2 separate regions of the Homo sapiens genome follow, and region 2 is linked to region 1. Evidence: fine-mapped expression QTL. A gene starts in region 1. The other region holds a variant in brackets. All regions are shown on one strand. Distances are from middle to middle.

What was found. PIP is the estimated chance that this variant, and not a neighbour inherited with it, causes the effect.
Region 2: its variant is fine-mapped to the expression of LSM12 in skeletal muscle (GTEx, PIP 0.96).

What each region holds. Positions count from the first base shown.
Region 1 is chr17:44,063,592-44,068,789 of GRCh38, reverse strand. LSM12 (LSM12 homolog) reads left to right here and starts at 2,119. Exons shown (of 5, transcript NM_001371445.1): 1 at 2,119-2,326; 2 at 4,856-4,989. The coding sequence starts at 2,203. RefSeq lists silencers at 2,037-2,156, 2,447-2,586.
Region 2 is chr17:44,037,163-44,042,360 of GRCh38, reverse strand. LSM12 (LSM12 homolog) reads left to right here. Exons shown (of 5, transcript NM_001371445.1): 3 at 2,105-2,214; 4 at 4,823-4,949. Among named protein-coding and RNA genes, the nearest start is that of TMEM101, 25 kb to the right of the region's middle. The variant G/A (reference allele first, on the strand shown) is at 2,879.

The sequences.
Region 1 (5,198 bases):
TTGAAATCACCAAGTTCTCTCCTCTTAGGGGTCCTGGCCCGTGCAGTTCCCTCTGCCTGGAACATGGCCACTCTTTTTCCTTGCCAATCCTTCAGGTCTCAGTAGAGATTTTTCACTTCCTCCAAGAAGGCCTTTCCTAATGGCTCCTAGAAGTCTTATATGAAAACCTATAATCACGATTCCATATAAAAAGTGGAAAACTGGAATGGCAATTATGTATGATTTATTATGGGGGCCAGAACAAGGATGAGAGGCATGAAAGTTCTCTGAGGCCGGCCACATGGCTCACGCCCGTAATCCCAGCACTTTGAGAGGCCAGCCGAGGCGGGAAGATTGCTTGAGCCCAGGAGTTTGAGACCAGCCTGGCCAACATGGTGAAACCCCATCTGTACTAAAAGTACAAAAATTAGCCGGGCATGGTGGCTCGTGCCTGTAATTCCAGCTACTCCGGAAGCTGAGGCAGGAGAATCGCTTGAACCTGGGAGGTGCGGGTTGCAGTGAGCCAAGATGGCGCCACTGCACTCCAGTCTGGGTGACAGAGCGAGGCTCTATCTCAAAAAAAAAAAAAAAAAAGTTCTCTGAAAAAGCACACTATGAAGGAGCAGAATTTTTATTCCTATTATAATGAGTGTATCAATACTTCCAACACCAGGAAGTTTATGTTTCTTGGAGGGCAAGGAAATACTTTTGAACTTTGTTCAGGTTAAGCCGCGCCAAGACTGGCCCTTTGCTTCCCTCTGGACTAGAGAAAGGTCAACCTGTTTCTTATACATGAAGCGAGGATCCAAAATTTCTATAGTGAGCGGTGGGTGGGTTAGCGACAGCCATTGGTGGTAGTAGGGCTTGAAAATGCACGCTCATAGTCCTTTGCATAAGATTAAGAAAACGACTGTTTTGTACATCAGACGGACATTCAAGGGCAGGGGCGCAAAACCCCTCCTCCAAGCCCCTTTTTGTCACTATCCGCTGCTCCTCATTCCTGCCTTTTGCCTGGCTTTCTGGGAGAGAGGGCAAAAAGGGAGAAGGGGAAGTGTCTTGACTTCTAAGAGTGATGGGTGACTAAGGGGGAACTACCATTTATTAAAGACCTAGTACATGCCATGCACTTATACCCGTTACCGCATTTAAACCTCCTAACTATGAGGTAGGTATTATTATGTAACAGAGTATAGCAGTAAATAGCACCGTCCTTGGAAATAGGCAGACTGTTTTTGCTAGTTGTGGAACCGTGGACAAGTTTAGTCTAAAACTTAGTTTATGTAAAAGGAGGACATTGATTCCTACCTCAAAGGGCTGTTAGATGCTCAAGAAGTGACAATACAAATGCCTATGAAGAAACAGGATCAGGTAATTTGCTTGCTCAAGGTCAGGTGATTTAGTAAGAGGCTGACCTCGGATTCTGGTTCCAGCTTATCTAACTCCACAGCCAATGTTCTTTCCACTATCACTCAGTAGTTATAATCATCTTTTTTTGTTTGTTTGTTTGTTTTGAGACAGAGTCTCGCTCTGTTGCCCAGGCTAGAGTGCAGTGGCACAATCTTGGCTCAGTGCAACCTCCGCCTTCCAGGTTCAAGAGATCCTCCAGCCTCAGTCCCCCTAGTAGCTGGGATTACAGGCACGCGCCACCGTACCCGGCTAATTTTTGTATTTTTAGTAGAGACGGGGTTTCACCATGTTGGCCAGGCTGGTCTCGAACCCCTGACCTCAGGTGATCCACCCGCCTCGGCCTCCCAAAGTGCTGGGATTACAGGCGTGAGCCACCGCTCCCAGCCTTATAATCATCTTGTCCAAGTATCGTTAAGTCCTCTGAGGCTCTGATTCCTCATATGCAAAATGGGGTTAACATATTTTATAAAATTCATTCATTAAACTCTTGTGTGGAAGGTGTGCATATAATGGAGACTGCAGCTCCCTCCTCTTTCCCCTTTTCATTCCACGTAGGTCATTTATCCTTAACTTCTAAAATGGACTCTACAAGCACTTAACCGAGCGGACGCAGCTATACAAATACTTTTCAGATTCCCCTTTATTTCCTCTTCTTTCCCACTCCACCTAGGATCCCGCCCCAACCAGCGCCAGGCCACGCCCCGGCGTGTGACGCAAGCACGCTCCGTGCGCGCCGTCGCGTCGCGGCGCTCACTGGGGGCCCGGCTTTCGCCCGCTGCTGCCGCCGCCGCCGCCGGCCGCGGCTGCACTCCCAAGATGGCGGCTCCTCCGGGCGAGTACTTCAGCGTTGGGAGCCAGGTGTCGTGCCGGACGTGCCAGGAGCAGCGGCTGCAGGGCGAGGTGGTAGCCTTTGACTACCAATCCAAAATGCTGGCTTTAAGTATCCTTCCCTGCGTGAAGCCCGAGTCCGGGCCGGCGTGTAGGTGCGGTGGTCGGGGGGTGGGGGACGACGGCGGCGGCTGGGGCTCTCTCCGGGCCTAGGGGCGACCGGCTACCGCGGCGCCCGGGGCGCATGCGCACGGCCCTGAGCTCCCCTCCCCCTCCCGCGGGCCCTTCGGTCAGCTTTGGGGATCCTGTCTCTCTCTCTTTGCGGGAGCTGGGGCTTTACCGAGGATCAGTGGGTGGAGGAGGGCTTGACACGGGGATGGCTTTTTGGGGGGAACGTTATGAGAGGGGACACAGTAATTAGGAGAGGGGGTGGTGGTGGGAGGGGGCTGATGGATTGGAGCCCGGATGGAAAGGAGGGGCGGGTGAAATATTATGGGGAGGGGTGTTTAGGGTAAGGAACTGCTGGTAGGGCAAAGGTATGGAATTTAGGAGGGCATGTGCACTGATGGGATTTCGTCCAAGGAAGGGCGGTGGGATGGTGACCAAATTGGTCCTTGCCTGTTTTGGGGGAGAGTAAGTTCAGGGCAGAGTTTGTATCTGAGCTAGGGATAGTGGCTTGTTTCGCTGATGCGTGTGTATGTGTGGTGGGGGGGCTGTGCTGATTTTTAGGCTTCTCGGTCATTTGGAAGTTGCTGTTTAGGGGATGTTTGCACTGGAAACCTGTTCCAGAGAGGGCTTGCCAGGGGCTTATGTGGTTTGGGGATGTGTGAGTTACAGGTGAAAGAGTGAAGTTCTCATGCTGCCTTGATCAGTCCAGCACATGGAGTCCTTTTACGTAGTAGCAGCCTCCCTTTTGAAAGTAGCAATGTTAAACTGATTGGAAAAGGTGGCCTGCTTCTTTGGGGTGGAAGTGACTTCTGAATTACTCCAGGAAACTCAGTCTTGGAAATGAAACACTTCCTTGTTGGGATAAATGTGCCACGGCTTCCCTTTTTATGTGAGCCACAGGTGGGTTTATTGGAATTTTTTTTTGGAGGAGTAATTTTTTATGGCATCTTTTTTTTTTTTTTTTTTTTAAGATGGAGTCTCGCTCTGTCGCTAGGATGGAGTGCGGTGGCGCAATCTCGGCTCACTGCAACCTCCGACTCCCTGGTTCGAGCGATTCTCCTGCCTCAGCCTCCGGAGTAGCTGGGATTACGGGCACGCGCCACCACGCCCAGCTAATTTTTGTATATGTTTTTTTTTAACAGAGATGGGGTATCACCATGTTGGCCAGGATGGTCTCGAACTTCTGACCTCGTGATCCGCTGGCTTCAGCCTCCCAAAGTGCTGGGATTACAGGCCTGAGCCACCGCCCGGCTTTTTTTTTTGTTGTGTTTTTTGAGACGGAGTTTCACTCTTATTGCCCAGGCTGGAGTGCAATGGCGTGATTTCGGCTTACTGCAACTTCCGTCTCCCGGATTCAAGCGATTCTTCTGCCTCAGCCTCCCGAGTAGCTGGGATTGCAGGCATACGCCACCGTGCCCGGCTAATTTTTTGTATTTTTAGTAGAGACGGGGTTTCACCGTGTTAGCCAAGATGGTCTCGATCTCCTGACCTCGTGATCCACCCGCCTCGGCCTCCCAGAGTGCTGGGATTACCAGCGTGAGCCACCGCGCGGCCTAAGAATAGTTGCTTTTTTAAAAAAATAAGAGGTTACACCTGGAAGAAATAAGACCTTTTACATTAGTGGTTTAGTTGGAAGGGTCTTGTAACTAGGAATTACTTTTTTTTTTTTTTTTTTGAGACGGAGTCTCGCTCTGTCACCTAGGCTGGAGTGCAGTGGCACCATCTCGGCTCACTGCAACCTCCGCCTCCCGTGTTCAAGTGATTCTCCTGCCTCAGGCTCCAGAGTAGCTGGGATTACAGGCATGTGCCACCACACCCGGCTAATTTTTTTTTTTTTGGTAGTGACGGGGTTTTGCCACTTTGGCCAGGCTGGTCTTGAACTCCTGACCTCAAGTAATCTGCCCGCCTCAGCCTCCCAAAGTGTTGAGATTACAGGCGTGAGCCATCACGTGAGCCTGGCTGAATTACTCAACTTTTACTTGACATACAGTAGGCTCTTAAATGGTTGGAGAATGAGTTTGTGAATGAATGAATGGATTAACTGGCTGGGTCACCTTGGGTGAATTTCCTTTCCAGTGTGTAGTTTTCTCCTCTGCAAAATGGGAAAGCTCACATCTGAAAGAGTAAAAAGAATACTGTGCAGACACAGAGAGTATTATACGAAGAACAGAAAGGTCTAGCTCTTTTGTCTGGCTCATAGGTTCAAGACAAACGCATTAAATCTGCATTATGCCTCTCCATAAAGCCAGTAGAGAGAAAGTGACAGAACTCCTTTGGAAGCTTCCAAGGATTTGGGCAGGAGGAAGGTGACAGGCAGAGATTTCCTGAGGAGAACCGTGATTCTTATAAGGCCCTCATGCTCCTGGCCTGCCTTTTACAAGCCTTGTGTGAATCGTGTTTTCTATGCCCCTTTTGGGATGTGTCAGTGCCTCTGCTTGTCCTATTTTTCCTTAACTTTTTTTTTTCTCACCAGAATGTCCCTCTTCCAGTGGAAAGCCCAACCATGCAGACATCTTGCTCATAAACTTACAGTATGTTTCAGAAGTGGAAATAATTAATGACCGAACAGAAACCCCTCCTCCCCTAGCTTCACTCAATGTTAGTAAGGTAAGGACTCAAGGGCAGATCTGGCTCTCTAAAATGGTGGGAAAGATGAGTCTCATTGAGTCTTAGTGATACATTGTTGTCTATTTTTTATTTTTTAAAATTGACTTAAAATTGTTTGTTCTGATATCTTTTTAAAAAATGTAGGTTTAGTTTTTCTCTTTATTCCTGGATGTTATCAGTAGATCTTAAGAAGTAGCTTAACTCCCAAA
Region 2 (5,198 bases), 26 kb after region 1:
TAAATGTTTGAAGATTCCAAGCATTAAGGTACTTTTGGAATATGCTGTAGGTATGGCTCCCCCATTTTTTTTTTGAGACGGAGTCTTGCTCTGTCGCCCAGGCTGGAGTGTAGTGGTACAATCTCGGCTCACTGCAGTCTCTGCCTCCCGTGTTCAAGCGATTCTCCTGTCTCAGCCTCCTGAGTAGGCGGGATTACAGGTGCACACCACCACACCCATCTAATTTTTGTATTTTTAGTAGAGACGGGGTTTCACCATGTTGGCCAGGTTGGTCTCAAACTCCTGACCTCAGGTGATCCGCCTGCCTCGGCCTCACAAAGTACTGGGATTATAGGCGTGAGCCACTGGGCCCAGCCAGTGCCTCTTTTTATTTAAGGAACTGATGTTTGGGGACAAATTGTGTGTTCTCGCGCGTGTTTGCACATGTGCTGCAGCATTGTTAGACTCAGCTGTTCATGTTCATGGGTCTGAAGAGTCTCCAGATTATTTGTTGGACTTTTAAGATGCATTGTTTGCCTTTAATTTGTTTTAACTACCTTGTCTAGCACATTTGTTTTGTCTTACACTCAAACAAATTTGTACCTCTGGAATCTCTAGCAACCAGTAGTGTGGGGTAGGGATCAGAAATGTGCTGGAGAGGTGATAGGGATTGACAGGGTAGAAGTTACGAGATTGTAGTAGACTACCAGATTTTACTAGATTTTCTTTTGATCAGTTTGTGGATGGTTCCACCAGAGGGCAGTGAAGGAACAGACATGACGTAGAATTCAGACTCTTCGTTTTTCTCAAAAGCAGGACAGGGTTGCCTTTAGCTAAAGTTAAAGGTGGACAGCGTTTATGGTTAGATTTACTTGAGTCCTGGCTCCCTATGTGAGCACAGATAATGTTCTGTAAGAGTTTTTAGAGTCTCAGATTGTGGTCTGTGAAGGTGTGGTATGTATTAATTTTTAAACTGGAGGCTCTAGCACAACAGCTGATAAATCTTAATTTTCGCCTTGAATGGAAATTCTGTGTGTGTGTGTGTGTTTGTGTGTGTGTGTGTGTGTGTGTGTGTGTGTGTGTGTGTGTGTTTGTTTTTTTTTTTTTTAAAGAGACAGAGTCTCACTTCTTTGCCCAGGCTGGAGTACAGTAGCATGATCTCGGCACACTGCAACATCTGCCTGCTGTGTTCAAGTGATTCTGCTGCCTCAGCCTTCTGAGTAGCTGGGATTACAGGCACGCACCACCATGCCCGGCTAATTTTTGTAATTTTAGTAGAGACGGGGTTTCACCATGTTGGCCAGGCTGGTCTCGAACTCCCTACCTCAGTGATGCACCCAGTTAGAAGTGTGTGTGTGTGTATGTGTATGTATTTTTTTTTGTTTGGTTTTGTTTTGTTTTGAGACGGAGTCTTGCTCTGTCACCCAGGCTAGAGTGCAGTGGCGCGATCTCAGCTCCCTGCAGCCTTCTCCTGGGTTCAAGCAATTCTCTGCCTCAGCCTCCCAAGTAGCTGGGATTACAGGAGCCCGCCACCACGCCTGGCTAATTTTTTTTTTTTTTTTGTATTTTTAGTAGAAACAGGGTTTTAACCATCTTGGCCAGGCTGGTCTTGACCTCCTGACCTCGTGATCCACCTGCCTCGGCCTCCCAAAGTGCTGGGATTACAGGCATGAGCCACCTCCCCTGGCCGGAAATGTATATATTTTTAAATCTCTGACCATCATTTGCCATCACATAGTCCCCCAGCCACACTCTATAATGTTAAAAGTGCTTTATTTTCTTCCTAGTGCTTATCACTGTCTGAAATCACCTTGATTTCAGTTACTTGTTTATAGTCTGTCTCCCCCACCCACTTCAGGCTATATTTAGCCTAGCATAGTGAATGTCTGGCACATGGTAGGTATGCAGTAAGTATTAGAAGGAAGGAAGGAACGTTTTCTTGGAATACCAGTAACTGTTCAGGTATGTCGTGGATTTTTAAAATTTGTTTCACTTTTCATTTCTGAGAAAACAGAATCTGTCCAAACAAGTCTTTCCTGGCCTCCTTTCTTCAGCTTAGGTCCTGACTGTTGGCAAGAATGAAGATGAATCCTATTCTGAGTCTCTTTCCTCTCTTCCACCCTAGCTTGCCAGCAAAGCACGGACAGAGAAGGAGGAGAAGCTGAGCCAGGCCTATGCAATCAGTGCTGGTGTCTCTCTAGAGGGCCAGCAGCTCTTCCAGACCATTCACAAGACGTGAGTTGGGATCGGAGAGGTCCTTTGTCCTGGGGTAATGCTACCTGGTTGTGCTGTCTGGTGGCAGGCTTTTGGGTGGTTGTCTTCCTAAAAGTCTACTGGGGAAGCTGGGTAGGGTATTGGCAATATGCCAGCATCCAGAGGTGCAGGTGCTGTAGCCCCCTTTCCACACAGAAGAATAGTGTAATCACGGACAAGTTGTCTTCTCTGGTCTTTAGTTGCTTGTCTGTAAAACTTAGTTTTGGATTAGATTATCCCTAAGGATCCCTTCTAGACCTAGTAGTCCATAACTTAGAACTAGTGATTTCTTCTCTTTGATTTTGTTGTTTTGTGCCTTTCTTTAAAAGCTGATGCAGTTTTTATTAAGGGAAAGTTATATCTATATCACTTTTCCCATTGTAGATTGGGATGAACACAGGGAGTTAGAGCAGGCCACCTTCTTACCACCTCTTAAAAGACATTTTGGGGCCGGGCGCGGTGGCTCACGCCTGTAATCCCAGCACTTTGGGAGGCCGAGGCAGGTGGATCATGAGGTCAGGAGATCGAGACCATCCTGGCTAACAAGGTGAAACCCCGTCTCTACTAAAAATACAAAAAATTAGCCGGGCGCGGTGGCGGGCGCCTGTAGTCCCAGCTACTCGGGAGGCTGAGGCAGGAGAATGGC[G/A]TGAACCCGGGAGGCGGAGCTTGCAGTGAGCCGAGATTGCGCCACTGCAGTCCGCAGTCCGGCCTGGGCGACAGAGCGAGACTCCGTCTCAAAAAAAAAAAAAAAAAAAAAAAAAAAGACATTTTGTTGGTCGGGCACGGTGGCTCACGCCTGTAATCCCAGCACTTTGGGAGGCCGAGGTGGGCGGTTCACCTGAGGTCGGGAGTTCCAGACCAGCCTGACCAACATGTTGAAACCCCCATCTCTACTAAAAATACAAAATTAGCCAGGCGTGGTGGTGCATACCTGTAATCCCAGCCACTTAGGAGGCTGAGGCAGGAGATTCGCTTGAACCCTGGAGGTGGAGGTTGTGGTGAGCCAAGATTGTGCATTGCATTCCAGCCTGGGCAACAAGAGCAAAACTCCGTCTCAAAAAAAAACATTTTGTCACAGCAGAAGTCATTTGACTCTCCACTAGCTTCCCTAGCTGCTGAAAAACTGGAACATTTGACACCCCTCTCCACCCCGCCTCCCCCCACCCCACACTGCCATCTGTTACTCTGTTTAACCACCCTGGATCTGGTGCACAGATGGCAGCTGGCATCAGAGCTGTTTGAGGCTGTGGTGTGAGTATCTGAACATTTACAGGTATGTGAAGGAACTCCCAGTCGCATCAGCTGCCCTGGGGCTTCCCAAGTGTGAACTGGAATGGGTTTTCCCAGTCTGGCAAGTGCCCAACTGTCTGATAATTGAGAAGAGCCAGTCTGAAGAGCAGCTCCCATTATGGGTGATAAGGGTCAGAGTACAGATCATAGGAAGATGGGGAGTTTGTTCTCTCTCTCTTTTTTTTGAGTCGGAGTCTCACTCTGTCACCAGGCTGGAGTCCAATGGTGCAATCTTGGCTCACTGCAATCTCTGCCTCCCAGGTTCAAGCGATTCTCCTGCTTCACCCTCCTGAGTAACTGGGACTACAGGCGCGCAGTCCCACGCCCAGCTAATTTTTGTATTTTTAGTAGAGACAGTTTCATCATGTTGACCAGGATGGTCTCGATCTCCTGACCTCATGATCCGCCCACTTCGGCCTCCAAAGTGCTGGGATTACAGGCGTGAGCCACTGTGCCTGGCCTTTCTTTTTTTTTTTTTTTTTTGAGACAGGGTCTCACTTTTATTGCCTAGGTTGGGAGTGCAGTGGTGCGATTTTAGCTTACTATAGCCTCAATCTCCCCGGCTCTGGTGATTCTCCCACCTCAGCCCCCGGAGTAACTGGGACTACAGACGCATGCCACCACTACCGGCTAATTTTTTGTATGTATTTTTAGTAGAGACGAGTTTTTGCCCTGTTGCCCAGTCTGGTCTCGAACTCCTGGACTCAAGCAATCTACCCACCTCGGCCTCCCAAAGCGCGGGGATTACAGGTGTGAGCCACCGCGCCCGACCTGTTCTCCTGTCTTTCTAAAGGTGGTATTTCTCCCTAGGCCAATGGTTGACAAACTATGCCAGCAGGCCACATCTGCTCATCTGTTTTACCTATTGTCCATGCTACTTTTGTACAACTATGGCAGAACTCAGTGCTAGTTGTAACAGATGATATGGACTGCAAAGCCTAAAATGTTTGTTACAAGACCCTTAAGAGAAAAAGTTTGCCAGCCTCTGCCCTAGGCTGCTATCTTAATTTGGATTCTTGAGGCCACTATCACATTTTTATGGCTCTCCAGATCTCTGATGCTTCAGAGTAACAATTTCTGGGCTCTCCCAAGAATAAATGTGCATGAGTTTCATTGCTTTTCTAGCCAGTGGCACCCAAGGAATGTTTCTTGGCTACTATATGGGCTGCTGGCATCTAGTTGTTGGCTGAGTGGTGAGCTGGGAACTTGGGATCAGCCTTCTGGAGTTATTTATTCATCAGACAGGAGATGTGGGATGCCCCCAAGAGGTTACATTTCGCCTGCTGTCTTCTCCTTCCAGCATTAAAGACTGTAAATGGCAAGAAAAAAACATCGTAGTCATGGAAGAAGTTGTTATTACACCCCCATATCAAGTGGAAAACTGTAAAGGCAAAGAGGGGAGTGCACTGAGCCATGTACGCAAAATAGTAAGTAAAGGAGCCTTCAGACTTTAGGGGAGAGAGGATGGTTCCTCAGGCCTTCAGTCTTTAGCACCAGACCAGGACATTGTGCTACAGTCTCTGCCTCCTCTAGCAGCAGAGGCCCTGTCTGGCCTCCCTGCCTTCCCTGTACTGTGGGGTTCTGCAGTCCTGTGGGAATGGAACCACTGGGTGGTGTGGAAAGAAGTGAGTGGGTGACCCTATGTCCTTTGCTGGCTTTTTGGAATTAGGAAGACT